4 separate regions of the Homo sapiens genome follow, and all the other regions are linked to region 4. The links come from fine-mapping of genetic effects on gene expression. A gene starts in region 4. Each other region holds a variant in brackets. All regions are shown on one strand. Distances are from middle to middle.

What was found.
Region 1: its variant is fine-mapped to the expression of RASGEF1A in stomach (GTEx, PIP above 0.99).
Region 2: its variant is fine-mapped to the expression of RASGEF1A in whole blood (TOPMed, PIP 0.92).
Region 3: its variant is fine-mapped to the expression of RASGEF1A in whole blood (TOPMed, PIP 0.97).

The regions. Positions count from the first base shown.
Region 1 is chr10:43,221,658-43,229,420 of GRCh38, reverse strand. All of the region lies in intron 1 of RASGEF1A (RasGEF domain family member 1A), which reads left to right. Among named protein-coding and RNA genes, the nearest start is that of RASGEF1A, 42 kb to the left of the region's middle. RefSeq lists an enhancer at 571-1,381. The variant A/C (reference allele first, on the strand shown) is at 3,388.
Region 2 is chr10:43,196,587-43,202,154 of GRCh38, reverse strand. It overlaps RASGEF1A (RasGEF domain family member 1A), which reads left to right. Exons shown (of 13, transcript NM_145313.4): 4 at 210-347; 5 at 1,267-1,488; 6 at 1,899-1,973; 7 at 2,387-2,479; 8 at 2,961-3,063; 9 at 3,143-3,222; 10 at 3,960-4,151; 11 at 5,056-5,179. Among named protein-coding and RNA genes, the nearest start is that of CSGALNACT2, 61 kb to the right of the region's middle. RefSeq lists an enhancer at 207-708. The variant T/A (reference allele first, on the strand shown) is at 2,804.
Region 3 is chr10:43,124,102-43,131,864 of GRCh38, reverse strand. RET (ret proto-oncogene) reads right to left here. Exons shown (of 20, transcript NM_020975.6): 18 at 6,883-6,982; 19 at 5,143-5,290; 20 at 1,514-3,753. The coding sequence ends at 3,596. Among named protein-coding and RNA genes, the nearest start is that of CSGALNACT2-DT, 10 kb to the left of the region's middle. RefSeq lists enhancers at 330-930, 931-1,531. The variant T/C (reference allele first, on the strand shown) is at 4,105.
Region 4 is chr10:43,263,086-43,270,848 of GRCh38, reverse strand. RASGEF1A (RasGEF domain family member 1A) reads left to right here and starts at 3,784. Exons shown (of 13, transcript NM_145313.4): 1 at 3,784-4,004. RefSeq lists an enhancer at 4,279-5,154.

The DNA.
Region 1 (7,763 bases), 41 kb after region 4:
CGGCCCGCGGACGCCGAGAGCACAGTGGCTCCTGCGAGCCTGGAAGGGGTGGGGACGGGCGTGTAGGAGCCCGGACGACTTGAGGGGCGCAGAACCACCTGTTGCTCTGAGGAGGATGTGCCGGGCGAGGGGTGGTCCGCGGTGTGTGGTCTGTGTGAGGTGCAGGCGGGGGAGGGCTGCGGAAGCGCGGGCGCGCTTATTCACGGCACATGGGAGGGAGCGCAGCCGTGCCTGTGCCTTGTGAGCCCCACGCGCGCCTGTGCGTTTAGGGAGAGTGGAGCCCACCGTGGGGCTTCGAGGAGTGTGCGCTCCAGGGCGAGGGCGCTGTAGGGTGCAGGCGGAGAACTGGTCCTGGAGAGGACCTGAGCATGGAGCACTGGCATTTCCCACGCTGTTTATGGAGACCCATCCCCAGAGGCGTAAGGCGGTGTGATTCGGGTGCGGCAGCCCCCTGGGTTCTGAGTGCCCACAGCGTGGAGCTGAGCCCCGGCCAGCCCTGGCCACGTGAAAGATGCAGGACTCATCTGTCCCTTCCTTCTTTCACTTACTCAGCATGCATTTATCGGGCCCCTGCTGTGTGCAGGCACTGCGGTTCAGCAGGGAACCAAACACCACAGCACGGAGAGTGTTGTCCTCACGGTGCCCACACAGCAGAGGAACAAGCACAATGTGTAGGTAAAATGGGTGGAGTGCTACCTGGTGCTGAGGGCTAGAGAAGAAGCAATGTAGGAGAGCTAGCAGGGCCTGTGAGGAGTTCATCGGTGAGGGTAGTTCAGGTCATTCTGCAGCGATAGAGCAGCCCCCAAGTCCCTCAGCTCACAACATGGTGCAGTTTCCACTCACTGGTGTCAGCCCTGGTCCAGGCCACCCTCATTCAGGGACCCAGGCTGACGGGGTCACATAGTAGGGGAGTGGGGAGGGCCCTGCACTGGCATTTAAATGCCCCAGCCCAGTACTCCAGTCACTGCTGTGAGACAGGTGGACCCCACGGCCCCACCCCGTTTCATTCGGACCTCCAATGACAGTCCTGCTCCCCCAGCAACCAGGGGTCTGACACACTTGGTGCCCAGCGTGCTGACCACCAGTGAAGGAGGGGGCTGTCTGTGCCTTAGGTATGGTGGCCAGAGGAGACGTGTGCACAGGACCTGCTGAAGGAGGGGAGGGAGGGAGCTATGCGGGGGGCATACCAGGAAAAGGCCAGGGCAGAGCTTTGAAGTGGAAGCTGCCTGCATGTTGGGGCCAGATTGGAGACTGGGGCATCAGGAGCAGAGCCCAAGAGGAGGTGGGACAGTGAGGCCAGCGAGGTGGCGTGGCTGGGGGAGCCAGTGGGGGTGACGGGGCTGCAGTGGGAGGTGGTGGAGCAGGATGTGCTCCCCGTGGGGCTGCCATGGCATTGCTGGCTGCTGCTGGGAGGGGTGAAGCTAGCAGAGTGCCACCCCAGTGGTCCGGGGACAGATGAGAATCCCAGCCTTGGGAGATGGCAGAGAAGGAGGAGGAGGGAAGGACTGATTCTGGGGGTATTCTGAAGGCAACACCTGGAGGCCGTGCTGGTGGGTAGGCTGTTTTCATTGAGATGGGGAAGGTCAGGCTGGCGCAGGAAGGAGGGTGTTGCCCTTAGAGGTGGGCAAGATGGCAGGCACAGCAGGTGGGAGCAGGGACAGTTCAACACTTCCCACCCCAGAGGTGTTGCCTGGCAGTGGTGTGGGCAGTCTAGAGTCCAGGGAGAGGTCTAGGCTGCATGTGCTCATGCAGAGCCTGGCTTGCTCCACCCTGCAGGCTCCTTGCTGCCCTGCCTCCTGGCCACCCTACCCACACCTGCACCTGCTGGCTCAGGACAGTACAGCCCTGGGCCCCAGCCTTCCCAGGCCCAAAGCCCATCTTGCTGGGCCTGCTAGCTTGAGCCACCTTCTTTCAGCTTCCCCAGGAGAGGTGGGATGAGGACTCTAGCCCTCAGCGGGGCACAGGCCAGGGGAAGGAGAGCAGAGCCATGGCCTCTCATGTTAGCCCACCACCTCTGTGCATTGGGGGTCCAGGCCTGGCCAGGATGCAGGGGGCACTGGGGACAGCACAACCCAGGGTCACATACTCACAGACACATGGGCTGCAGCAGTGCCATCTGTCGGGGGGGCAGGCAGTCAGGAAGGGCTGCCTGGGGGAGAGAGTCTCACACTGGCATTGGTGGGATGCATGAGGATTGACTTAGTGCAGGGGAAGCTGCCTGCATCTCCCACACCTTTGGGCTCTTGGACCTCGCCCTCCAGGGAACTGCTGGTGAGTGACCAGAGGAAGGAGACCAAACTGTCATGTCAACCTCCCTTTTCCCCCTTAACCCACTGGAAAACCCCTGGTTATCCTTGGAAGCTGATCTCAGAATCACCTCCTTCATGAAGCCCTCCCTGACTACTCCCTACAGAGTTAGTTCCCCACCTCCGTGCCTCCACGACACCCGGCACAGACCCCCAATCCTGAAGAGATCATGCCATGCCATGGAGTTGTGTCTGTCTTCCCACAGACACTAAGGTCCATGGGCTGTTCCGTTCTGAGTGTGTGGCATAGGCCACAAAGGCCTCAAGGGATGCTGACTTGACTGAACAAGTTCTGGAAGGAAGGAGGAAGGAAGAAAGGAAGGAACAAAGATGAGGGCGGGAAGTGGCCTGTACAGGCTCTCTACTTCTTGTTTTACATCTGGGGAAATTGAGGTCCAGAGGGGCTGTGTCTTGCCTGAGGTCAGCCAGGAGGTCAGGGGTCAGAGCTGGTTCCTGGGTCATGAGGGCTCCACTGTGTGGGTTCTGGGCTGCCTGGGTCCCTGTGGGTTCCAGGACAATGGGAGTTCAGAGGCAGATGGGACACGAGGCGTGGGGGCTCCTGAGGGAACCCGGGGACAGTCAGGTGGGAGCCCATGGATGGCGTGGATCTCGGAGGAGGATGGCAGCCAAGATCCCCTCAGCTTCTCTGTTTCTTTTTTTCTTTTCTTTTCTTTTTTTGAGACAGAGTTTTGCTCCTGTTGCCCAGACTGGAGTGCAATGGCATGATCTCACTGCAACCTCCACCTCTGGGGTTCAAGCAATTCTCCTGCCTCAGCCTCCTGAGTAGCTGGGATTACAGGCATGTGCCACCATGCCTGGCTAATTTTGTATTTTTAGTAGAGACGGGGTTTCTCTATGTTGGTCAGGCTGGTTTCGAACTCCTGACCTCAGATGATCTGCCCGCTTTGGCTTCCCAAAGTGCTGGGATTACAGGCATTAGCCACTGAACCTGGCCCTCTGTTTCTTCTTCTGGCCCCTGCTGCTGGCTGGGCCCTGGCCCTGCGGCCCCTGGCACCACTGGCCAAGTGGAGTTTTGTTGGCAAAGCTGGTGTCTTGTGGTCTCAGCCTCGGGGAATAACCC[A/C]GCCCCCACCCCTGTCACCGCCCACACCCGCCTTCCGGGCTGGGACCCAGCCCCTGGCATTTCCCAAATGTCACTGTGACTGCCGCCAGCCACCCCTGCCCAGCCTTGGGCCGGTAAGTATGCGTCAGAGCGCCGCCCTCCTCTCTCTCCCCCTCCCCGTGGGTGAGGAGGCTCAGCCTTCAACTCTGGCCCCAACCTGAGTATGACTTCTCTGGGGACCTCCCTGGGGCCACATACAACAGATGTCCTTAAAACAGGGACTGGCATGTTCCTAGAGTGCCCAGCCTGAGGGGGCAGTGGTGTGGTGTTTTGGGTGGGTGACCAGGAAAAGTGGCTTCAGGGTAGCTGAGCTGGTTGGCAGAGCAGGCCCACTGTGGACATCGTGTTCCTGGGGGATGGTAGTGGAGCTTAGAGAGCTGAGAGATCCGTGGACACACACACACACACACACACACACCCATACACAGACACCCACACACAGAGACACACATAGGTGCACACAGACACAGAGACACACAGACACACAGAGACATGCAGAGACACAGACACAGAGACACGCAGGCACACAGACACAGAGACACACAAACACAGACACATACAGAGACACAGACACAGAGACACATGCAGGCACACACACAGACACAGACACATGCAGAGACACAGACGTAGAGAGACACACAGACACATGCAGAGACACAGACACAGAGACACAGACACACAGACACACACAAAGACACAGACACACAGAAACACACAGACACAGAGACCCCCCCCCCACAGACCCCCACACACAGACATGCACACACACACAGACACATGCAGGCACATGCACACACACAGACACAGAGACACACACAGACACAGAGACACAAAGACACACACACAGACACATACAGAGACACAGACACACATAGACACATGCAGGCACACACACGCAGAAACAGAGACACACTAACACAGAGAAACACAGACACACAGACATATGCAGAGACACACAGACACATACAGAGACACACAGACACACCTCCCCTACTGCCACTGGTGTGAGCATCTCTGTAACAGCTCCACACAGACTTATGGGCAGACACATATGCCCAGGGGAGGTAGATAAGTAAGCTATTGATTTTTTAAAAGTTTATGTTAGGTAATTGATTATTGATACCTTACTAGTTTGAACAGATTTTTAGTTTGGCTTCCTGGAAAATCCAAGAAATTAATTATATTACTTACACATAAGGAACAGCCAACTTCTTTATTTCTAATGTATCTTTAGTTTTCTTATCTTATTATGTTTTCTAAAAGGTGCAAAGTAACATTAAATAATAGCAGTTGTCTTTGGCTTGATCTTCATTTTAATGAGGAGGCTTTTCATGTTTTACTAAGTCTGAAACTGGCCCATATTTCCAATAGGTATTCGTCATCAAGGACAGTGTGCTGGAATCCTACATTAATTGCCAAGAGTGCACACCAGGAATGGATATTCAGTTTCATCAAAGGCTTTCCTATATCTAGCAAAATCATCAAATGCCTTTCCTCCTTGGACCTATTAATGTGTTGACTTATTAACTCTTCTGAGCTAAATCATCCTCTTGTTCCTGGAATAAAGCCCACTGGGTCAGGCTCTATTGTGCTTAAAAATGCTGCTGAGTTCATTTTACTGATGTGTTGCTATGTTGCTGAGGGTATTTTTCACTATTTTCAGAGGTAAGAATTTATGCATACTTTTCTACTAGGAGACATATTTGTCACATTTATAAATCATGCTATTTTAGCTTTATAAAATGAATAGGAAGGCTTTTCAATATGAATTGTGTAGTTGAAATAGTTTATATATCATATAAAATTATCTTATCCTCAAAGGCTTGAAATAATTCATTTTAGAAACTATTTCAGCCAGGGCTTTCTTTTATTTTTTCCAGAGGCTTAGTTGGCTCTCAACTTAATTTGTACTATGGTTATTGGTCTTTTTGGGTTCTAAACAGTTTTACTCTATTTTTGGTTACTTATATTTTCTAGATAATATAAGTAACCATTAAAAGTTCTTGCAGATCATTTACCACAGATTTAGGTAGTTGTTTGTTTTAAACTTTCTTCTACATATCTGGAGTTAGATTCCCTTTTTTCATGCCCAATGTATTTTTCATGTCCTTCCTTTCTTCCTTCTTCTCTCCCTCCCTTTCTTTTTTAAAATAAATTTTTATAATTTTTTTAAAGAAATAGAGACAGGTTCTCACTAGAGCCCCCCAAAGTGCTGGGATTACAGGCATGATCCAGGGTGCCTGGCCCTCCCTCCCTTTCTTCTTTCCTTTTGTTGATTAGAATTGCAAGAGGGTTATCCTTGAAATCTGTGTTTTCAAAGAATCAGCTCTTGAAGTTTATAAGGAGTTCTACTCTATTCTTTGATTAAGTCATCTAATTTGCTTTTTAGTAGTTTCTTCTTCCAGTTTGTTTCACTGTTTTGTTGAGAAGCTCTTTTTTAAGCTTTTTGAATCAAGTGCTTAGTGTTTACTTCAATACATTATTGAAGTCTATGAACTTTTCTGTGAGTACAGCTTTGGCCATATCAAATTCGATACAGAGTTTTCCTATAAAGGTTATTTTTCTGACATCTGTAATTGGAATTTGAATCTTTAACACAGGTGTGATTTAGGGATTTTTTTTATGAAGTGGGTATTTTGTTTATCAGTTATATATTAATATCCAACTATAGTACATTGTGCTTATGTCATTCTCTCACCTGCACACTTCTATTTGGGGACTTTACTGGGTTTCATTGGTGGTATAACATACGACCATGTGGCAGAGACTCTGGACAGTAGAATGTGCCTTTCTGTTTCTAGACACAGTTTTTCACATATCTTGGTCCCCTGTCCAGAGAGCATGCACTGCAATATTTTCATCCCTTGGGCATCTACCACTTGCTGGGCAATTTCTGGTTGTGAATCTAGCATGAAGAGGTGCTCACTGTGTTTCCTGGGCATAGCTTTGTGTTCTTGGGAGTTTACCTCTAATAGGGTTATAAAAAAAAAACCAATAAAGTGTTTTTCTTACTCTCCACTCTCAGCCATTTAGCACAACATTCTAATACCAGATTCTCTAACATTAAGACAGCAGCTGGGTGCCCTGTAATTCAATTTGGACAATATTGGAGGCGAAGTCAGATCTCACAGGTTGAGAGCTTGGTCCCACAAGGCTGTCCCCCTCCCTCGACTTCAGATGCCATTTGCAAGTCTCAGGTTGTGGCCTGTGCTTCTGACCCACCCAGCAAATCACCACTCCTGGGACTCCTTTCTCAGATTCAATTAATTTGCTAGAGCAGCTCACATAATTCAGGGAAGCACTTGCTTCCATTTACCCACTTACTATGCAGGTTTTTACAGTGGTCACAGATGAACAGTAAGAGGAAGGGATGCTCAGGGCAAGGCATGTGAGAAGGGGCGTGGAGCTTCCCTGTCCTCCCAGGCACTGCACTCCAGGGCCCTCCACCTGCTTGCCTACGCAGAAGCTCTGAAGCCGCTCCTTTTGGGATTTTGTGGAGGCTTCATTATGTGGGTGTGACTGACTGAATCATTGGCCATTGGTGATGGACCCAACCTTCAGCCTCTCTCTTGTCCCTAGAGCTGGGGGTGGGAGTGAAAGTCCCCACCCTTTCATCACATGGTTGGTTCCCCTGACAACCAGCCCCCAGCCAGGCTGTCCAGAAGTCCATCAGCACACAGAAGACACTTACCACTTTGGAGATTCTGAGAGTGTTAGGAGGGTGTGCTGGGAAAAAAGACAGCGTCATGCACCACATAGTGGTCCCCTGAGATTCATAATATGATATTGTCACTGTGCTTTTTCTATGTTTAGCTGTAGAAATCCTTACCGTTGTGTTACAGTTGCCTCCAGTATATTCAGTGCAGTCACACACTGTGCAGGTTGGGATCCCGGGAGCAATAGGCTGTACCACGGAGCCTGGGTGTGTAGTGGGCTGTGCCATCCTGGTCTGTGTAAGTCACTCTGGGGTTTGCACAACGACGAAATCGCCTAAGATGCATTTCTCAGGAGGTATCCCCGTCGCGAATGGACGCATGACTGTATGTGCCCGGGCCACACGGACAGGAAGGGCCAACTTGCAGGCAGGAGGCCTGGGCGGCTTCCAGCTGTGCCCTGTCCTCAGCCCCACACCTGTATCTCATCTGGGAAGTGGAGAGCAGGGCCTCAGAGGCCCCCAGATGGTGTCACAGGGCCCAGCAGGTGGGAGGCCCTCTGCCTACGCCACTCATTGGTGGTGAGGCTTGTGGGCAGTTTTGCAGGGGCTAGAATGCAGCACGGGCCCCTTGGACCCTGGCCTGATTTCCCCCACCCCACCTCGCTGCCCTGCGCTTGCAGCC
Region 2 (5,568 bases), 68 kb after region 4:
AAAGTCAACTTAAGGGGAAGGAAGAAGGAACCAAACAGGAGTCATGTGGCGGTTCAGGTTTGGCCAAACCGCAGGTGGCACGCAGTTGGGGGCTGTGCCCAGCACAGGGCCTGGGGTGTGGCTTGGGGATGTGGGAAGCTTGCACCATTTGCCATCTAGTACCCTACTCTGCCCTGTGGGGCCTTACTCTGTATCCCCTGCTGCCCCAGGCCAAGCTGAAGTCTTTCTCAGCCAAGATCGTGCAGCTCCTGAAGGAGTGGACCGAGGCCTTCCCCTATGACTTCCAGGATGAGAAGGCCATGGCCGAGCTGAAAGCCATCACACACCGTGTCACCCAGTGTGATGAGGTGAGTGCTCCCTGGGCTCTGGCCAGGGTCTTTGGGTGTGTGCCAGGGTCTGCCCTCGGGAGGGTGGGGGCTTCGGGGACAACTCTGTATGTGGTCCCCTTCCATGTTACTCCCCCAGGAGGGTTGCTGGCTGGCCCCATTCAACCTCCCTTCCCCCAGATGACAGCTCAGCTGGCCAGCAGTGGGCCAGGGTCACCCATGATACTGCAAGCAGGGACCTTGCAGCCCGGTTGCGGGCCTGGCAATCATTGTCTCAACCCTCTCCTGGCCCTTGCTGTCCTTGTCCCTGGAGTGGGAGCCTATTGAGAGTTTGTAAGGCTCTGCCTGTCTTGGATTAGTGAGAGGAGGTGGGGGTAAGGCTTTAAACCGGTCTCCCATTTTTCAAATGTCTTCACCTTTGCCTTTGGTGGAGAGAGAACTGGAGATGCCTGGGCCAACTGGGCCTCCACAGTGGAAGCATTCCCTGTGCTTAGCAGCTCCTGTTCACCCCGAGTACTCCAGGAGGAGCCAGGGACCCCAGGCTGCTCCCAACTAGGGGGCAGAGACTCCTGGCTTTGGCAGAAGCCTTTCCCATGCCTTAAACTGTTCTATGGGCTGCTCCTGCTTCAGGAAGCAGCTCAGTGGGCCGCCTCTGAAAAAGCCATGCTTTTCAGACCCAGAAGCTCAGTCTTGAGCCTGTCTCTGCCCTTAGCCTCGTCCTGCAGCAGGACAGCCCACTGAGACCCCTCCTCAGCAGTCCTCAGAGGAGCCCATGCTGTGCCCCACTTTGTCCTTGAAGGCCTGAAGGCTGCGGTTTAGATAGGGGCTGTGGGCTCACGTTGGTTAGGCACATCCCTGGAGGTGAGATGGATCCTACCCACAGTGGTGGTGGCCTTGCTGCCAGCCCATGCTGGCACCCTTATTGCCCTTGACCCCACAGGAGAATGGCACAGTGAAGAAGGCCATTGCCCAGATGACACAGAGCCTGTTGCTGTCCTTGGCTGCCCGGAGCCAGCTCCAGGAACTGCGAGAGAAGCTCCGGCCACCGGCTGTAGACAAGGGGCCCATCCTCAAGACCAAGCCACCAGCCGCCCAGAAGGACATCCTGGGCGTGTGCTGCGACCCCCTGGTGCTGGCCCAGCAGCTGACTCACATTGAGCTGGTCAGTGCTGCCTTATGCCCTGACTGGGGGTGGGGGCTGTGGGACCACAGTGCCTCTTTCAGCACAGCACTTCAGGCCCCTGCTAGTCACACTGAGCCATCAGGGAAGTGCGCTTGCCAGCCCTGACTGCCACACTTCATGCCAGATGTGTGTCCGTCTGAGTGGCGGGCACCTCTGTGCCTGGCACTCACGTCCTCAGGAACACAGCAGTGCTGTGTCAGTGGGAGGAGCTGGAGCAGTGTCGTCCTGCAGTGGGGACTGCAGTGGCCCTAGGATGGAGGACTGGCCTGGGAGGAGGTGAAGGTCCTGTGCCCTGGGCAGCTCCTCCTCTCCCTGTCCGCATGCCTATGCAGTGCTGTCCCTTCTCCAGGGGAAGCTTGTCACCTTCCCTTTGCTATCTTCCACCCCAGGACAGGGTCAGCAGCATTTACCCTGAGGACTTGATGCAGATCGTCAGCCACATGGACTCCTTGGACAACCACAGGGTAAGTGGGCCAAGGCCTGTGGCACCCCTGCCAGCCCTGTCTGCCCAGCACTTGCGCTCCATGCAGGGTGGGTGTGGGCCTCACTCAGCACGCCCCGAGCGTCTCCGGAGTGCTGGGCCATGAGCCCCGATGGATGTGGCACTGGACCTCCTAGCACCTGCTTCAAGAGGCAGCACCTGCTCCAAGATGGCTGTGCTGGTCATGGATGATGAATGCTGGGAGAGGTCACAGATTTGGGCCAGGGAGCCAGCCTGGCCTGCCAGCCCTGCACTGGGCAGCAAGGAGCACGCAGGCATGATTGAGGCTGCTGCGGTGCAGGCTGAGCCATAGCTGGGGACCAGGGCCAGCTGTGGGGACTAAGTTGTCCAGCCATGGTCCTCCAGGCCCCCTATGACCTGCTGTGTCCTTTCCAGTGCCGAGGGGACCTGACCAAGACCTACAGCCTGGAGGCCTATGACAACTGGTTCAACTGCCTGAGCATGCTGGTGGCCACTGAGGTGTGCCGGGTAAGTGCCCATGGCAGACATGGTGGGGTGGCTGCCATGCCCACACCCAGTGAGACCCTGATCTTGCCCCAGGAATTAGATGATGGAACTTTAAGAGTGAATGCACAAAGTCCCTGTTGCATTGTCAGGGCCTTGGTGGTCCCCCAACCCCGACATACAGCGATTCCTTCAATGACAACAGACACCCCATCCGTGGAGTGCTCCCCTTGTGCCCAGCACCATTTTTCTTGCCTGTGTGAGGCTTTGCCAGCCCTCACAGCCCTCTGGGGCAGATGGTGCCTTCCCTTTGATGACTGAGGAGCCTGAGCATAGGCCGTGCACATG[T/A]CTGGACCTCCCAGACGCAGCCATGGACCTGGATCAGCCCGCTGTGGCCAGAAGCTAAGTCCCGAGGTCCTCCCTGCCCCTCTGTTCCTCTGCCCGGCGGCCCCAGCTCCTGCTGTCCCCCGGCAGCGCCATGCTGAGGTCACCTGCCACCTTCCAGGTGGTGAAGAAGAAACACCGGACCCGCATGTTGGAGTTCTTCATTGATGTGGCCCGGGAGTGCTTCAACATCGGGAACTTCAACTCCATGATGGCCATCATCTGTGAGTGACTGGGCACCCAGGGTGGGGCTGCTGCATGGCCCACCCCCCCGGCCCTGACCCTACCTGCTGTCCTCTGCAGCTGGCATGAACCTCAGTCCTGTGGCAAGGCTGAAGAAAACTTGGTCCAAGGTCAAGACAGCCAAGTTTGATGTCTTGGAGGTAGGCACCTGAGCCCCGTCACAGCTGCGAGCTGCACCCATTTCGTCCCGCAATGGCCCGAAGGGGGCCCTGACAGTGGGGGTGGGGGGCTGCCCTCCTCTCCCTGGGGCTAGCACCTACAGTGCTGGCTGAGCTGGCCTGGCATGTTCGTCCTCCAGCAGTGGGGACTTAAGTTGTCCTCGGTTACTTCAGGCAGACCCGGCATCACCTAAGGCGAGTTCCAGAGTGGAATGCGGTTAAGCAAGAGTTTGACAAGAGTGGGGTTGTGTTGGAAGACACTGCCTTTTCCTTGGTCAGTGTCTCCAGGTCCTGGCTGGTCTAGATGGCCCAGAGGCTGGCAGACAGGGTCACCTGCAGCCTTCCTCAGATGTGTTTGACCACAGAGTCCATTTTTGCAAAGCATGTGTCTTGTGGAGCTGGTCAGGTCTGGGAGGTGTTGATCTAAGTAGAGGAGCAAAGGGAAGTCTTGAAGGAAGGAGGGCGAGGGTCAGGCCTGGCAGGCAGGGCAGTGACACTTCTGTGGCTTTCCAGAGGATGCCAGGACCTGAACTCAGAAGCCCTGGCCCCAGGGCTCAGCCAGGCACCCTTGGGCGTCCCCTCCCCCGTGCTAACTCCCAGGCTGCCCAGGGGCCAGGTGCCTTCTCTGTCTGCTGCCTCCTGCTCTGCAGAGGGGCATCTGGAGCAGGTCGGAGGGGCATGGGGCTGTGATGCTCACCAGGTCCTCCCTGTGCCCACAGCATCACATGGACCCGTCCAGCAACTTCTGCAACTACCGTACAGCCCTGCAGGGGGCCACGCAGAGGTCCCAGATGGCCAACAGCAGCCGTGAAAAGATCGTCATCCCTGTGTTCAACCTCTTCGTTAAGGACATCTACTTCCTGCACAAAATCCATACCAACCACCTGCCCAACGGGCACATTAACTTTAAGGTGAGCTCATCCCAGCACAGGGCAGGCCAGGCGGAAACTGTCTGAGCTACTGGAGCCGCCAGGCATTAGCCCTGGGTCGGGATCTGTGGGTTTCCTGAGCCCTGCCTGAGGTTCACAAGGGCCTTCAAGACTGAAAGCCTCATAGTGGGTCACGGGGTGCTGTTTGACTGCAAGGTATGAGGTGCGCCTGCCGGTACTTCTGGGTGGATGGCCTAGTTGCAGAGCTTGGAGTCACAGGGAATTGTATTTATCCAGGACCGTGGTTCCAGCCTGGCCCTACCAGGGAGAGAGCCCTGTCCACCCCTGTGGGATTGGAGGTCAGGAGGGGTTTAGATAGGAAGGGACTTGAGCAGGGAGGAGGCGGCAGAGAATTCTAGATGGAAGTGAAGAGCCTGCCTCGTGGGCCTGAGGGCACCTGGTGAGGATGGGAGGGTGGGACATAGGTGGCAGGGCAGGTGTAGGTGGCTGTGGGCTGCCGGATGCCTACCTCACACAGGTGAGGTGTGGGCAGGAGCTGGGATCCTTCCGAAGGTCCCAGAGAAGGGACATCATGACACGTTCTGGTTGGCGCCGCTGGGCTGGGTTTGGATGGGGTGCCTGCCTCAGGCTGGAGTTATCAGTGGGGCCTTCTTTGGGTCCCTGCACAGACAGGCAGAGACCCTGCTGCCGGCCTGATGGCCCAGGTGGAGGGCCAGACAGAGTGGCCTTGGGGGACACCTGCTGGCTCTGAGGCTGCATGGCGTGCCACCATGGCCACGGGGTCAGCGTGCAGGGCCACTGTCCCATCTTGCTGGGACCAGTGAAGTGAGCAGGAGGCTGAGGCCAAAACCTACGTCCCCTGCCCTGACCGAGGGTTTGGTGCTTAAGGTGACAGATGAACATCAGTTGGTTTTGCTCCCTTCAGAAATTCTGGGAGATCTCCAGACAGATCCATGAGTTCATGACATGGACACAGGTAGAGTGTCCTTTCGAGAAGGACAAGAAGATTCAGAGTTACCTGCTCACGGCGCCCATCTACAGCGAGGAAGGTGAGGGCTGCCTCCCAACGCAGCATGCCTCCCACCCCACCTGACTCCTTGTCCAGGCCCGGTGCTCTTTGGGGTTGCCCTGGGAGATGGCCTGCTGGCTGCTCCATGCCACACAGGGCTGGCTCTGCTCGCAGGGGCGAGTGTGCATGAGGGTGGGTCATGGGATGGATGGAAGAGAAGGACAAGAGACTCAGTTTCCAGCAGCCACTGGAGAGGGTCACATGGGCTTAGGTCAGGTGCTGCAACACGAGGAACCTTCCTAGAGTCCCCAACAGGCAGCCTGAGAGCCCCGCACAGCAGAGAACTGTGTTCAGCCCAGCCAGAGGTCACTGTCCCCTTGTGCTGGGCTGTACTCCTGAAGGGACAGCTGGGTTCAGGCAGACACTGCA
Region 3 (7,763 bases), 140 kb after region 4:
AGGCGAACCTCAGAGATACTGTTCCAGACCACTCCGGTAAAGCAAAGAAGATTGAAGATCCCAAATAAGTGAGCCACACAAGTCTCTTGGTTTCCCAGTGCATATAAAAGTTACACTTTACACTGTACTGGAGTCTGTTAAGTGTGTGACAGAACTATGTCTAAAAAACAATGTACATACCTTGGTTTAAAGATTCTTTACTGCTTAACAGTACTGATAGAGAGACATGAAGTGAGTGTGGGCTGTTGGAAGAATGGCCCTGATAGACTTTCTCGACGACTCAGCGTTGCCACAAAACTTCAATTTGTGAAAAACGCAATAAAGCAAAGAGCAATAAAACAAGGTGTGCCAGACACTATGCGTGAACGCACCCGAGGCAGAGAGAGGCACCGCTAACTGCTCCACCTGCCTGCGGGAGAGGCTTTCTTTATATGTTAGAAATTATGCTTTCCCTTCAAAATTTCTTTTGTGTATGAAGTATTTGTTCAAGCCCTGTTCTCAGGCACATTCAACTAGATTTCTGCCCACATAAGCTGGCCTCGTGGTGGGAAGAAATCCTTCGTGAAGGTTGGCAGAAAATGTGTTTTTAGGGGAAAATAAAACAGCAAACATACACACACAAATAGTCCTAATGTAGAGTCTACATTAGGGGTGGCTTTTAGCATTAACTTTTCTTGGCGTAGATTTCTACTTTCAGAGGTAAAGGCTACAGCAAACAGCTGGCTCTGGAGATTACGTTCACTTCCAGCCCGTGGTCCAGGCTGAAGGAGGAAGCCGTGAGCAGACACAGACACCCACGGCTGGGAAGCGGGGCCTCATGGGCCTGGGGCGGGCACTGGGCGAGGCGTGCCAAGGCCTGCATGTACACCACCTGGCGAGGCGTGCAAAGGCCCACGTATACACACGTGTATGTGTGTGACACAGGCCGTTGGCATCTGACACAATGCAATCGCAGATGAGACTGATGTTGACAACAACTCCCGTTTGCCCACTGACCCATCAGCTCCACGCCCGGCATGAGAAGCTCAGAGAATTCCTCGGGGAAGACATAAACAGAAGTAGTGAGTATGTCAGGCTTCATGGTGGTTCAGGACAGCATTTTCCCTCACACTTCTAATGGCCTTCCTCAGGACTTGGCATTTTGTATTCTGTCTCCCACAGCTCTAAGGCCAACTTCAAAAGATCAGCAACAAGCAAATTGCTAGAGAACTGTGAAGACCTAAACTTGACACTGGCTGCTGCTTTGTTCTAGGGATGGACACTTTTAAGGAAGGGATTCCTTGAACAGTGGAGTTAGCTGAGTTTTTCAGTTTCTATCAATGTGCCTATTCACACGCAAATGTACCAGATAAGCCAGCGATATCTCCAGAGCCCCTAGTCCTCGACCACTATTGATGCCTCAGTGGTTATCATGATAGAATTCTTTGTGATGTTTTAAATATTGTATGGAAACTACAAAATCAGAAATCTGTTGTTTCCAACTAGAATGTTAAAAAGAAAAAAAGTTTACACATTTTATGATACATGATTTTATTTACACAACTGATTTTCTTAGTCACCTTGATTACAAAAAAAGGAACATGATCTGGTTTAATGACCTTTCATAAATAGATTTTACAAATTTTAATAACTGACAGATTACTACTTAATACTCAGTAATACTTAATACTTAGTAACTTCTGCATTTACGTGTATGAAAATTCCAGTAGAGCTAATAAGGATGGGGACTTTTATAACTCAGGAATAGACAATTAGGTTATTGGTCAAGGATAAATTGGTCAAGGATAAATTCCCCATCACTGGGTCAGCTGTTTAGACCTGGAGTTCTTACCCTCCTGAGAACAAACCTGTTGCAGCAATTCACACTTACTGTGTAGGCATTTTTAATAATTTGAGAAAGTTTATTCTTATTTCTGCATTTAGTAAGACTATCATTAAGCATATCTGAAAACCAAAAGTTTACCATGTCTATAGATATTTGTAAAAGAACTTATCACAGTGTATCTGAAAAACAGCCCAAATTAGAGCCAGGTTACGTGTCCAATAAGCATTTTTCAAACTCTCCCTCTGGGTGTGTGCGCACACACCACAAGGCTCTATTACACACGCATCCAAGCCTTGGCCTCACAAAATGCCACAATTTTGCTGTTTTTGTGAAATGCCTATATAAAATACAGTATTTGAATGAGACTATTTTAAGTCCTATCAGTGCTTTAAGTCTGAAGAGCAGGCAGTGTTTTGGTAATCCGACTCTTTTCTGCGAAGTTACAGTGCTGACAACACAGCCAGAAGAGCTGCTGAGACTTCCCAAAAGCTGCCCCCACAAGACTGGAGGAGTGTTGTGCATCTGTGACCACAAACAAGCAATGAAGAATGACAAGAAGCTTATGAGTCATGGTCAGAATCTAAGAAACAGAAACATCTTGTAGCAGCATTAAATTACAAACACAGGAAGAGCTGATCCATGGGCCTTTCACACAGGCTCTATAAGAGCCAAACACCATCTTTTTCACATCAGAATTGTAATCAGAGGTGTAGCAGTCCTTGGTCATTGTCATTGCTACTTCTAACACAGCTAGCTAGCCTGTCCCTTTATGAGTAAGTTGATAAGATTCAAATTAAAGTGAGTACAAGCCCTACCTGCTCCTAACAGGTAGGATGAGCCACTGCTTTCGCCTCTACTTGGCTGTGGGGTGTGCTGCAGGCTGGTGGCAGGTGGGATTCACAGCAGCAAAGCCTCTGCTGTCAGCAATTCTGGGACTCCAACAGCCCCCTTTCTTCATACTGTTCTCATCAGGGGTAGTGGCTGCTCAGTACCGAACACGTGAGGATGATGTGGTGGGCCCGGGGGACAAATGTGTCTTGTGAGCCCTCTTCCCTGATACCACCATCCACATAGTAAAGATGGCATGGAATCTCTCCATTGTGCTAAATCTAGGAATCATCTTAATCATGATGAAAACCAAATGTCTTCCTAAGGAAAGGTTGCATGATTTAAAAAAAATCATTCTCAAGATCTCGAATGCTGAGCCCAGGCCCATCCTCGGGGCCCCTCTTCCCCTCCAGCCCTGGAGGGGCATTGACACTACCCCCAGGCCCCCCCCGCAGTCTCTCATTCTGAATAAGGACAGGTCATCAGGGCCAGCATTTTTCCTACTGCCTTTTTTGTGTGTGTGCTTCATGTTTAAATTTTTTTGCCTTGTTTGGCGGCAACTAGAAAAATCCAACAGTTCAGGTCCAATTTCATACACCAGGTAGTAAGTGTTGGACCCACACATGTGAACACAGAATGTTGGTGGTCACTGATGGACACAGACCAACACTGGGTGCTGCTGGGCACTGAAGAGAAAGGAATGCTTAACCACTAAGACTCAGAGCTCTTACCCGGTGTGGCATGTCTGCTAGGAGGGAAAATCACCGGCTATCAGAAGTAAAACCACCTTGGAAGTTAAAACAAACTACCAAAAACGAGTCTGCCACCTGGGAACTGAACACGGCTCGGCCAATGTGACGTTCACAAAGAAAGGGCCGGTAGACTTTCCATTCTCAGCATGTTTCTTCCCCTTGTGAGTCCATTACCTTTCACAAAGAAATGTTAACTATCAAACGTGTCCATTAATTTTGCCGCTGAGGGTGAAAGCATCCAGTTAGCATATACACTATCATTTGGATATCTTGGAAACCCAGTGTTAGTGCCATCAGCTCTCGTGAGTGGTACAGGACTCTCTCCAGGCCAGTTCGGGTCTGACATGCCTAAAAATGAAAACAGATCATTTGTTCTGCACTGAAGAACCAAAACTTCAAGTGCAGACAGTAAGGCCTTGGCAAAACTCCCTTTGATGTTCAAACCAAACTCGTGGTTTCTGTGCCAATTATATTAATGGTTTTGTGTTCCAGGTTTCCAAAAACACTGTTATAGTTAGGGGAAATATCATGTGCTCTCTTGGTAAATGTAACTTAACAGACACTACCAATTTTGACTTTTATGAACTTGAGACTCTCTAATCTGATGTATATTTGTCGAACTGCTTAACTCTTTTTCTAAGGCAGTGTAGGGCAACAGCACACTGCTGCACTCAATGGCTTACTGCAGCGGAAACGTTC[T/C]ATAAAACATTCTCTAACGTAAAGGAGGCACTCGTCTGTTGTCTGAGCCTACAACGGAGAAGAGGACCTTCCAAATCGAGGGTGCACACGGGCCAGCCTCATAGCATCGTCAGCACAAATGGAGTGTGGCACTAGACACAAAGCCAGTGAGGAGTCAGTGAGTCAGGAGGCATGCAAAAGGAACCGTCTCAGCTTGAAAAAAATGCTTGAAACTCCAAGATTTCAAACAATCAATGATGAAGTTAGGAAACAGAAAAAATTTCTAGTATTTAATCAAAGACAAAAGAAGGAGTTTTGGCAAGAACCATATTTACTGTCCATTGTAAGACCACAGCACCACAGACCATGTTCTTTCAAAAAGCAACTGCTCCAGCTTTAGCACTGACTTCATAAGTGACAACCGTCCTGAAGGTGGGTAAGGGAAAGGATGTGAAAACAGCAGTGGGGGTGCGTCCTCCCAGGGCCAGCCAGCTCCTGCAACCTCGCTACCCCTGATGGAGGACATGTGGCTGGGACTGGGGCTGAGGCTTGGCCAGTGGCTGCTCGCCAGTGCCGGGTGGCCTCTGAGAGGCACCTGCCTGCCCAGGAGGGGTCTGGGGGAACCTGGCTGTGCTCCCAGTGCAGGCTGAGTGGTGCTGGTGGCTCCTTTCTCAACTGAATACCTCCCCAGATTTGTATATTTATCCACTTAGTTAAAGTAGAAGTACTATGACTTGATTCCCACCCCAGAAGCGCCTTATTCAACCTGTTCTTGGTCTCCCCTGAGAGTTCCGCCCTGATCTGTTTTTTCCTCTACCATCCTAAGTTGCTGGGCAATGTGGTAATTACACTTATTTTCACATCCTTTTAGAAAAACATAGTTGCAATAATGCCTAAATGTAAACTGGATGCAAAGTCAGACATTTACAAATAAAAAGGTTCAGAGCAGACTTTGGTTTTGTTCAGACCAGAAACATTTTTAAAAAGCATCACAGAGAGGAAGGATAGTGCAAAGGGGACAGCGGTGCTAGAATCTAGTAAATGCATGGGAAATTCTACCATAGAGTTTGTTTTCAATCCATGTGGAAGGGAGGGCTCGAGGGAGGGGGGCATTATTACAGTCCACCAGCGGTGTCTCCTCCTCTGAGAGGCCGTCGTCATAAATCAGGGAGTCAGATGGAGTGGACGCCGCAAGGTCCAAGTAGTCCTGGAAGACAGAGATGGCCGGTCACTCCAAGCCATGTGCCACAACTAGATACAACTCAGTATACAACAAGCCATCCTCAGGGCAGAGGCTCTGGCTGTGTCTCCACCTCGCACCAATCTCCTGACCTCTCCAAGAGACCAGGGCCAGGCTGCATAGAGCTCCCAGGACTCCTGGCTGGCCTGGTCCTGCTCTGAGGTCCCCATCACTCCCCTGGGTGTTGTCTATTCTGTCTCTTCCCCTGGAAAGTCACCTCCCTGGGGAAAGAAATGTGCTCCCTCAGCGTCTTATCTCCAGGGCCTGGAGGGCAGCCTTGGGGGACGCCTCATCTAGCTGCCCCTGGCCCAACCCGGAGATGGGCAGCACGGAACCAGCCCGCTGACAAACCCTTGGGCTCTGGGGGAGCCCACTGCAGCCACATGCCAGGACGCAGCCCCAGCCTGCAGGATGTTTTCCAGCTTTCCCCAAGGACCCCTGCCATCTAGAACGTCACGTCAGGGCTGAGTTCTGAAATCTGACAGCGCTGTCAGGGTGCACAGGACCCTGCTACAGGCACGGGCTCCCCAGCACGAGGGGCCACTGGCGTCTGCTCCTTTCAATGCCCAGCTTGAATGTGCACAGAGGGGCCCAGCGTTTTCCCGGCTGTTTCTCAGCACTGTTCTAGGAAGGCCAGCACCAGTGATCGCTTCTGTTTTGAACAACGCTGCATTCTCAGGACTTGAAGTTTTCATCCAAGCGAGACAGTGATGTGAAGTTTTCCTATGGGGTCCTAGGTCCTGCATCCCGCTATCCAAGTCGGAAGAAGTGACAACTCAGTAAATGTGCCAATGTTAAGACAAGGCCTGTGTGTAAACCCCGTGAGGGCAGGGCTGTGCTGGTCTTGTTTATCTGCATTCCCAGCCTCTGAGACATAGTATGGGTCCTAGCAGCTGCCTGATGAATATTGGTTGAAAATGTGTAGACCTCACAAACTGTACTTCCAGGCACACAGGCTGACTCTGGCCACCCCCCGATATGCTTTGTTTGGCCTGCGTTCGGCTCTGGGAAATTTAAATGAATTGTTAACAATAAAAACTGGGAGACAACATAAACCTCATAAAATTCAGAAGACCCAGCCCATTCCTGGCTCCTTTTTCTGCAGGCCACAGGTACTCCAGCAAGGAACCCTTTGGAGGGGGCTGGCTGTTTGCCACAGTCTCCACTGCTCCTTACTCACTGCCCTCCTCCAGCCGGACCCCCCTCTGGGCATCTGAATTTTGGGCACTTGCTTTAACTCAACTTTCTCATTTTCCATTATGGAAAACTATTTCTTTTTGGCTTTGGAATATTTTCCTCCCATGCCTGTCTGTAGAGAGCTTTTCCTAAATGTCAAGAATCTTGGTTTCTTCATGACTTGAAAAGAAGCCCAAGCGGCCTGGCCTGAGAAGGGTTCAATCTGCTGTCTGCATGCAGGGGAGAGCATGACTCTCTCTCTCTGCACAATCCCACTGTGGCCCCACACTGGGAACTCTGAGGGCTAAAACTACTGCCCTGGGGTGAGGCTGGAGTCTCCCCAAGCCACTTTCAGCTTGTGGGAATTGGACCCAGGCACTCACTCTCCTCTTAACCATCATCTTCTCCAGGTCTTTGCTGATGTCCGCAAACACCGGCCTTTTGTCCGGCTCCTGCTTCCAGCATTGCAGCATCAGGCGGTACCTGGTGGGAAGAGCAGACAGGCCAATATGATCCAAGCAGGGCCAGGTCTCAGAAGGACAGCCCACCACAGCCATCGCACCCTGCCCTGTACCCTGGGCCCAGTGTGCTCTGTCTCCAACTCCAAAGCTATTTCTGCATCGCTGACATCTCTGAGCCTCGTGGGACTGGGGCATGGCCTGTTGCAGGATCCCAGCCCGTGGGCCACTGTGCTCAGGTCTCTCAGAGCTGTGGTCCAGAATCCTACAAGCTTCCCTTCCCTCCAAGGGAGATTCATTTTTACTTCCCTTGCAAAGACACTGGTAAACAGCTCACTGGATACTATGCTTGCTCTGGCAGCTAAGTGAGAAGTGCCAGTCCTTAAAACTCTCAAGAAGAATGAATTGATTGAGGGCTTTTAGGTGTGGAGACAGACAAACAAGAACCTTTGGCAATCACACGTCTGTCCTGCACCGTCCTTGCTTGCCTGGGTGCCCAGGCAGACCACAGCGCTCCAGCTGGCCACCAGCTGGGGGCCCAGGGAGGTGGTACCTGGCTTCTCGGCCCAGCATGCCCCCTCCACGCCCCAGCAGTGTGCACACTCTGTGGAATGCATGTACCATGCATCTCTGCCTCTGGGCAGCCCTTTCTCATCTGTTCTCAGCCTGGTTTCTAAGACCATCTCCCCTGAGAGTGTAAAGGTTTCAACCTCTCAGGTTGCAGCCCAGGCTGCCCCTGCCTGGCTCTGCACCTCCACTCAGGCACCCCTTAACACGTGCCCCCTGGGCCATCTGGAATTACCTTC
Region 4 (7,763 bases):
AGATACAGGGACACTCTTCATGGTGCCTAAACATTTCCCAAGGCTCTAGCCAACACTTTCCCCTACTACTTGTTCCTCGCAGCCACTGAGCTGTTCTCTATCTCCACAGTTTTGCCTTTCTAGAATGTCATATAAAAGTTCAGTGGGCTGGGGGTCGTGGCTCATGCCTGTAATCCCAGCACTTTGGGAGGCTGAGGCAGGTGAATCACGAGGTCAGGAGTTCAAGACCAGCCTGGTCAAGATAGTGAAACCCCATCTCTACTAGATATACAAAAAATTAGCCAGGTGTCGTGGCAGGAGCCTGCAATCCCAGCTACTCGGGAGGCTGAGGCAGGAGAATCACTTAAACCCGGGAGGTGGAGGTTGCAGTGAGCTAAGATTGCACCACTGTCCTCCAGCCTGGGAGACAGTGCAAGACTCTGTCTCAAAAAAAAAAAAAAAAAAAGTCCAATGGATCATTTGAAGTCTGACTTATTTCACTTAACGCATCTGAGAGTTATTCAAGTTGTTGTATTGAATAATGGCTTGCTCCTTTTTACTGCTGAGTAGTTGTCCATTGTATGGATACACCACACACAGTTAGTTTATCCAGTCAGCCACTTTTGGGTTGTTTCCAGTTTGGGACCATACTGGAGATTTTCAGACACCTCTCTCAGGAACTGATAGAATATGAGATCCAATTAATTAACAATATAGAAGATTTGGCTTTGATTAACCAACCTGACTTAACTGAAATATACAGAATATTCACTCTTTTTCAAGGGCATATGGGGCATTTATCAAAACAGAACATATTTTGGGCCATAAAGAATGTATCAACAGATTTCAGAAAATCTCTGCCTGATGTGTGATTAAATTGGAACTCAGCAGCAGGAGGGTAGCTAGAAAATCCCCTAATATTTGGAACTAAGCAATGTCCTTCCAAATAAGTCATGGGCCAAAAGAGAAGTCAAAATGGAAATTTAAAAGTCTCTTGAGCAAAATGATAGTGAGAAAAAAACACCAATTGTGAGAGAGAGAGTAAAGCAGTGCTTAACAAGCAGATATATAGCTTTAAGTCCATAGAGTAGGAACGAAAGCTGAAAACCAATGAACCTACCCTCCAACTTCAGAAACTAAAAAGGAAGAAGGAAGGAATGAGAGAAAGACAGTTAATACTCCCCCAAAGGAGAGCTACAAACACAATGAAACTAAGAGCAGAGATTCATGAAATAGAAAGTACAACAGAGAAAGCTGAACAAAGTCAAAAGTTGTTTCTTTAAAAAAAATTATAAAACTGACAAAACCCTAACAAGACTGATCAAAAAAAGAGAGTGAAAAACACAGAGGTCCCCAATATCAGAATCCAAGTGGGACATAGCTACAGATTCTACAAACATCTGCGGGATAATATAAAAGATGTTATAAACAACAATATGAGGATGTCAGAAAATCTGAAAATTTAGAGAAAATGGGCAAAATCCATAAAAAACACAATTTGCAAAAGTTACATAGGAAGAAGCAAATAATCTACATGGTCCTATATATTAAAGAAAATGAACCTGTCATTAAAAACCTTTCTACAGTGAAAATCCAGGTGCAGAGAGCTATTAATATTCTCACTGAATGGGTGTATTCTTATTGAAAATTCATGGAGCACAACTTTATGATTTTTGTCTATGCATGTTATACTTACAAAAAATTATCCTTGGGAGGCTGAGGCGGGAGGATTGCTTGAGCCCAGGAGTTCGAGGCTACAATGAGCTATGATTGTGCCACTGCACTCTAGCCTGGGGGACAGAATGAGACCCTGTCTCAAAAAAAAAAAAAAGCTATAAAAGTTTACTTAAAATGAGTAAACAAATAAATAATATGGGGAGTGGTAGGTGGGCATACAGATGAAACAGAATTGGCCATGTATTGATAATTGTTGAAGTTGGGCCATTGAGTTTATTGTATATACCTTTTTAGCCGTTACTATTATAAGCGTTTAAAATCTTACATAATAAAATATTGTTTGTAAAAAATAGTAAGATCATATTACTTTGTGCAAAACCCTCCACCTCCCTCTGAGTCAAAGCCACAGAGGGCTGATGGCTGGCCAGGCTCTTCGCGATATGGTCCACCTGGCAGCTCCTGCAGGCTCCTCTCTACCACACTCACTCATCTCCACTTGGCCTCCTTCTAAGGCATCCTCCACCTCAGGGCCTTTGCATGTACTGTTCTCTTTGCTGAAAATGTTCATTCCTCGGATTCAGCATAGCTTGCCTCAGTTAGGTCTTAGCTCAGATATGATCCTTTCAGCCAAGATTTCCCTGATCACCCAAAATAAAATCCCCAACCCAGCAGGGAAGGGTGGTGGTGAGAAACTACAGTTCTAGCTACTCAGGAGGCTGAGGCAGGAGGCTCACTAGAGTCAGGAAGTTCCAGGCTGTAGAGCATAGTGATTGCACCTGTGAATAGCCACTGCACTCCAGCCTGGGCCACACAGTGACACCTCCCCTTAAAAAATAAAAAAGAATCCCCCACCCTACAAGCTCCCCTCCCCCTCCCTTCGCTGGCTCCCTCTCCCTGCTGGGCCTCTCTGTGGGATCTGCAGCATCTGACACATGAACTATTTATGTGTATTTTTATTCACTGCCTACTTCCCACAAGAATGCAAACTCCAACCAGACAGAGACATTCACAGCCGAATCCCAGTGCCCCATCTTACACCTGGCATACAGGTGTTCAAGACACAAGGACTAAGTGAGTAAGCAAGGTCCTCAGCCTCTTCAAGGGGTGCTGTGGGGCTCCTCCCCATTTTTTCACACAGACCCCTCCACCTGGGGACATCGTCGCCCCAGACCTGTTTCTCACTGGCCCTCGTCTGACTGCCTGCAAGAGTCACTCTGGGCCACCCTGGGGTCAGGCCACAGGGTGTCCGTTCAAGAGAAGGTGACCCTTCAGAGCGACAGGAAGTTCCAGTGGACGCCAGAAGACCTGTGTCCTGCTTTAGTGGTTCTGAAATCTTTCAAGGTGGCTTTGGAGCCTTGCTCTGCCACTTATAGGCTCTGAGACCCTGCAGGGTAACCGCACTCCCTGTGCATCAGTTTACTAACCTGTCCAATGGGAACAAATCCACCACCGACCTTACAGGGCGATTAAGATGGTTAAGGGGAGTGACCCAAGGGGCCAGGACTTGCCCACAGAAGGGCTTTCACCGTCTGATTCCACTGACAAAAATTTTGCCAGCTCTGCGGGAGTCCCCAGAGGGCCTTTTAAATGCGGTGGCCGCATCGCCTCCTAGCTTGTCTGCTGCCTGATCCTTTTTTTTTTTTTTTTTTTTTTTTTTTTGAGACGGAGTCTCACTCTGTTACCCAGGCTGGAGTGCAGTGGCGCGATCTCGGCTCACTGCAAGCTCCACCTCCCGAGTTTACACCATTCTCCTCCCTCAGCCTCCCGAGTAGCTGGGACTACAGGCGCCCGCCACCACGCCCGGCTAATTTTTTTTTTTGTATTTTTAGTAGAGATGGGGTTTCACCGTGTTAGCCGGGATGGTCTCGATCTCCTGACCTCGTGATCCGCCCGTCTCGGCCTCCCAAAGTGCTGGGATTACAGGCGTGATGCCTTATCCTTTTTAAATGAAAGCCTGGCCGCCCTCTCCCGGCGCCCGCCCTGTCCCAGTGCCCTCTGCTCGAGCCCCGTCCCGCGCCCTACCTCCCCCTGCACCTTTGCCCCGCACCCTCCTCCCTCCGCGTCCCGCGCCCGCCCGCTCCCCCGCTCCCCGCGCTCTCGCGCCCGCTCCGTGCCCGCTCGGCGCTCGCTCCGCGCTCGCTCGTTCGCTCGCTCGCTCGCGCTCCCCGGCGCCGGCTGCGGAGGGAGCTGCTCTGCCCGCAGCTGGCGCAGCGCGGGGGCGGCCGCGGGTGGGCGGGTGCCGCGGGCCCGGGCGCCGAGCATGAGCCGCCGCCGGCGCCGGCCGCGCGCTGCTCGGGGCCCGACTGCGGCGCGAGGGCGGCGCGGGAGCGACGCTGGCCCGGACCGAGGTAGGCAGCGGCCGCGGACCCTCAGTGCCTCGGGGCCCCCGCCCGCGCCTGGGGCCGTGCCCTCCGGTCGCCGGCGCGGGCAGGGCGCGGCGTGCGCGGGCCCGGGGTCCCTCCCGGCGCGGCCGTCGTGGGGCCGGGGCGCGGGCTCCGGGCGCGGGGCGGGGGACGCGCGCGGGGAGGGCGGCCGGGATCCCGGCGCGCGGAGTTGCTGAGAACTCCGCCCCGGGCTGGACGGCGCCAGGACCCCCTGCACCCTCCGCCCCTTCAGGGCACCTGGCGGGCCGGGCCGGGCCGGGCCGGGCGTGGCAGGAGCGCACGCGGCGGGCGGGCGTGGGCACTGCGGGCAGGTTCGCTGCCCGGGGCCTGGCGTGGGGGTGGGGGCTGGGGAATCGGAGGAGCTCAGGGCTGCGCAGTTGGAAGTTTCCATTTGCTCTTCTGCATTCTGGGCCCCGCCGTGGTATCTCACGCCCTTGCTGTTTGGCGAGGAATTGGGGCTTGAGCTCTGCATTTGGGGGAGAGGTCCAGGGCCATGCCAGGTGTCTCCCTCTCCCTGCTGGGCAAGGGTCATTTGAAGGACCACGCTCTCTTTGCCCCAGGCCTTGCCGGCCCCAGGAACGGGGCAGGTGCAGCTGGTTCTGGTCCGAGGGTCGGTGAGTGAGAGGTGGGGGCGGGAGTCCCCTGCTGTGTGTGGAGGGACGCGCTGGCAGGTTCCTGTGCCCTGCATTTCTGGCTGCCTCTGGGTGCTGGACCTGGTGGATATTTACAGAGAGGCCGCTGCCTGCCTCTTGGGAGCCACCTGGGGGCAGAGACCTGGTGGTGGCCGGGGCTCCCTCCCTCCCTGCTCAGAGCAGTGAGCTTCTCCCTGGTTCACCCTCCCCACCACTGCCACTCTTCTCCCACTGTCCTGCGCAGGAAGGGCCCCGATGGCCGTCGGCCGCAGGATCCTGAAACACAGGAGTCAGGCTGGGTGCAGGGGAGCCTCCCAGAGGCCTTGGTTCCCTCTGTCCCCCCAGGGTTCTCCCGCCCCCTCCGGATGCAGTCTTGCCAGCCCAGCCTGTCCACCTCGGTGCCCTGGACTCTAAGCGGCTCTAGGGGGCCTCCAGCCGAAAGGCTACAGGTCTTGATTCGTGAACCACGGGCAGGCTGCAGGCTTCTGAGACTCAGTTTCCCCATCTGTAGACTGACACGGTTTTGATGACCTCTGAGGACATTTCCACCCTGATGTCCAGTGACACTTTGCTTTGGAACCTCAGGACCCCAGCCCAGGAAGGGGAGATCCGGAGCAGGGGGACATGGAGGACCTTGGCTGGATGGCCAGGGACACGTGGGTGGGTTCTCTGCCCCTCCAGCCAGTGTGTGTCCTTAGGGCTGTGGGTGGTAGTGACCCAGCGAGGCGGGTGCAGCAGGCCCACACTCCCTGCTCCTGAGAAGGGCATGAGCTGTGTGGATCCCCCAGGCTCTCTAGTGAAGTAGAGAAGCTGTGTCCTCCTGCACATGCCCCTGGGTTTGTGAACCAAGCAGGTATCCCAGGTGTGCCTTGGCCTGAAGGCCAGCCAGTGAGTTTGTTTTTCTCTGGGAGGCATCTTCGAGCTGCCAGCCGGATGGCTCCCTTCCACCTGGCAAATCGTGGAAATGGAACAGTTCACACAGAGCAGAGGGGTTTTTTGGTGTAACTTAGCAACTGCAGGCAGGGGAGGAGGAGGAGGAGGGAGAAATGGCATTTGTGCTGGACAGTGGCTGCGGTGGGGAGAGCCACGCACACAGTGGCCCCCAGCGGTGGGAGGGGCCAGCCAGGGAGGAGAGCGAGTGGGCACTGGGACACAGTGTGGCCAGGAGCCCCTGAGCACGCCGGTCCCCACCTGTAGAATGATGCCAGGGGCAGGATGGGACAGCTTTGGTTGGCCTTTGGTTTTTGGCAATAGAACCGTGGGTTTCACAGAAGCCCTATTTGTCAAATAGGTCAAGTGAAGGTGCTGTGCCAAGGCAGGGATGGGGGCAGGGGGTTTGGCCCCCCCACTGTCCTCAGGAGAGGGGCTGGTGGAGGGATGCTCTTCTCTGCATGGCCCACCCCAGGGGAGGGGCGCTGGGCTGCTGGGGGTAGGTGCCAGGGGCATAGCAGATAGCAGATGGGGAGGAGACTCAAGGCATTCTCCCCCACCCCTCCCTGCTGCCCCTTGACGGACCCTCCCTCCCCTTCCCCCTTTTTCTCCTGAGGCCATCTGCTTGGGTCCGGCACTCTGGCTGCTTTTCTGTTGGAGCTTCCAATCTGCCTCCTGTAACTCCCACCCACTCCAGCCTGCCTCCCGGCTCCTCTGCCCTCCCCTGCCCACTCCCTGCTGGGGAGGATGAGTGTTTACCTAGCAAGGGTGTGATGTGCGGAGGGAGGGGACTGAAGTGGCACTGGTGGGCTGACAGCCATAGAGGAGGGCCTCTGATACCCACTGGTGGATTGCTGGGGGTGTCAGAGGCCCTCCCCTATGGCTGTCAGCCTGACCTGCGGGGGTCCAGAGAGGGCTCACTGCCCACTTTTTGGGTGTATCCCTGTCGCCACTTTTTGGGCACAGAGCCTGGGGCTGTGGGTATGTGAGAGTGGGCTCTGGGCCGGCCCAGAGTGGCGAGCTGCCAGGAACCCATGCAGAATGTCCCTGCGCGCTGGGACACCAGGAATTCCCCAGCTAGCAGCCCGGGAGCAGGGTTTGGGAAGGTCAGCTGGTATGGCCAGCAGTGGCTTGGCGGGCACTGTGTGAAGGGAAGCCCGAAAGCCCCTCGGGGTCCTGGCCTGCTCAGAGTGGGAGAGGGGCTCTGGCCTCAGGGCTCACCACCTGGGACAGGCTGGTAGAGGCTGCTCCAGGCACCATGACAGAGGGCTGTGAGGGGTGACCGGCCAGGAGTGGACAGGTGTGAGGACTCAAGCGGGGCCTGTGCTGTGATGGACGGGGTGGGGGTGTGACTGCTGCTGTGGCCACCCCTGCCCGGTGGACCATGGAGAGGGAAGCCAGGCAGGGAGAGTAGTCCGGTTGTCCCGGCTCTGCTGCAGCACCTCCCAGGAAGCACATGGGTGCCTTTGGGCACAACTCAGGACGACACCCAGTGATCCTGTTCTGGGAAGCTTCTCCCCACCTGTGGTTGCCCGCCCTGCCCTGGGCACTGCCCGGGCTGGGGTAGGGGCTGAGCTGCCGGCCTGTGCTGCCCAGGGCAGCCAGCAGGGGCTCCGAGACCTGCTTGTCTCTTGTGAGCTGGCTGTGGGGTTCTTTGTGAATTCAGGGAGCAGAGGCCAGCACCAGCTTGAAGAAGAGAGGCCTGGGCTGGGACTCTAGACAGAACAGCCCAGGGTGGGCACTTCATACGTGGGATGCAAAGATGTGGCTGTCCGGTTGACAGGTGCTTTTCCTTTTTTAAAAACAACGAAACTTGCTCAGCCGTCCGCACCCTGGTCGCCTGTGCGGGCTGACTTTGAAGACATGTTCTCTGCTCACTCTGAATCCTCACTTCCCACTCACTCCCACCCACGCCAATCTGCACACACCTCCTTCAGTCCAGGGATGTCTTCTTGAGAGGCCGTGGATGTCCACTGCCTTGTTCCCAGACACCCATTTCCTGGGCTTGGCCGGCCCCTGGTTCTCCTCCTCCCATCCTGGGACACTCAAAGTCCCTGTTCCTCAAGACCTGGGCTCAAACCCTCTACCCAGCCACAGCATCTGTTCCCTCCTCCGTGCTGATCCGGTTCCAGCTCTCATCAGCCCCCACCTGTCCTCTGGG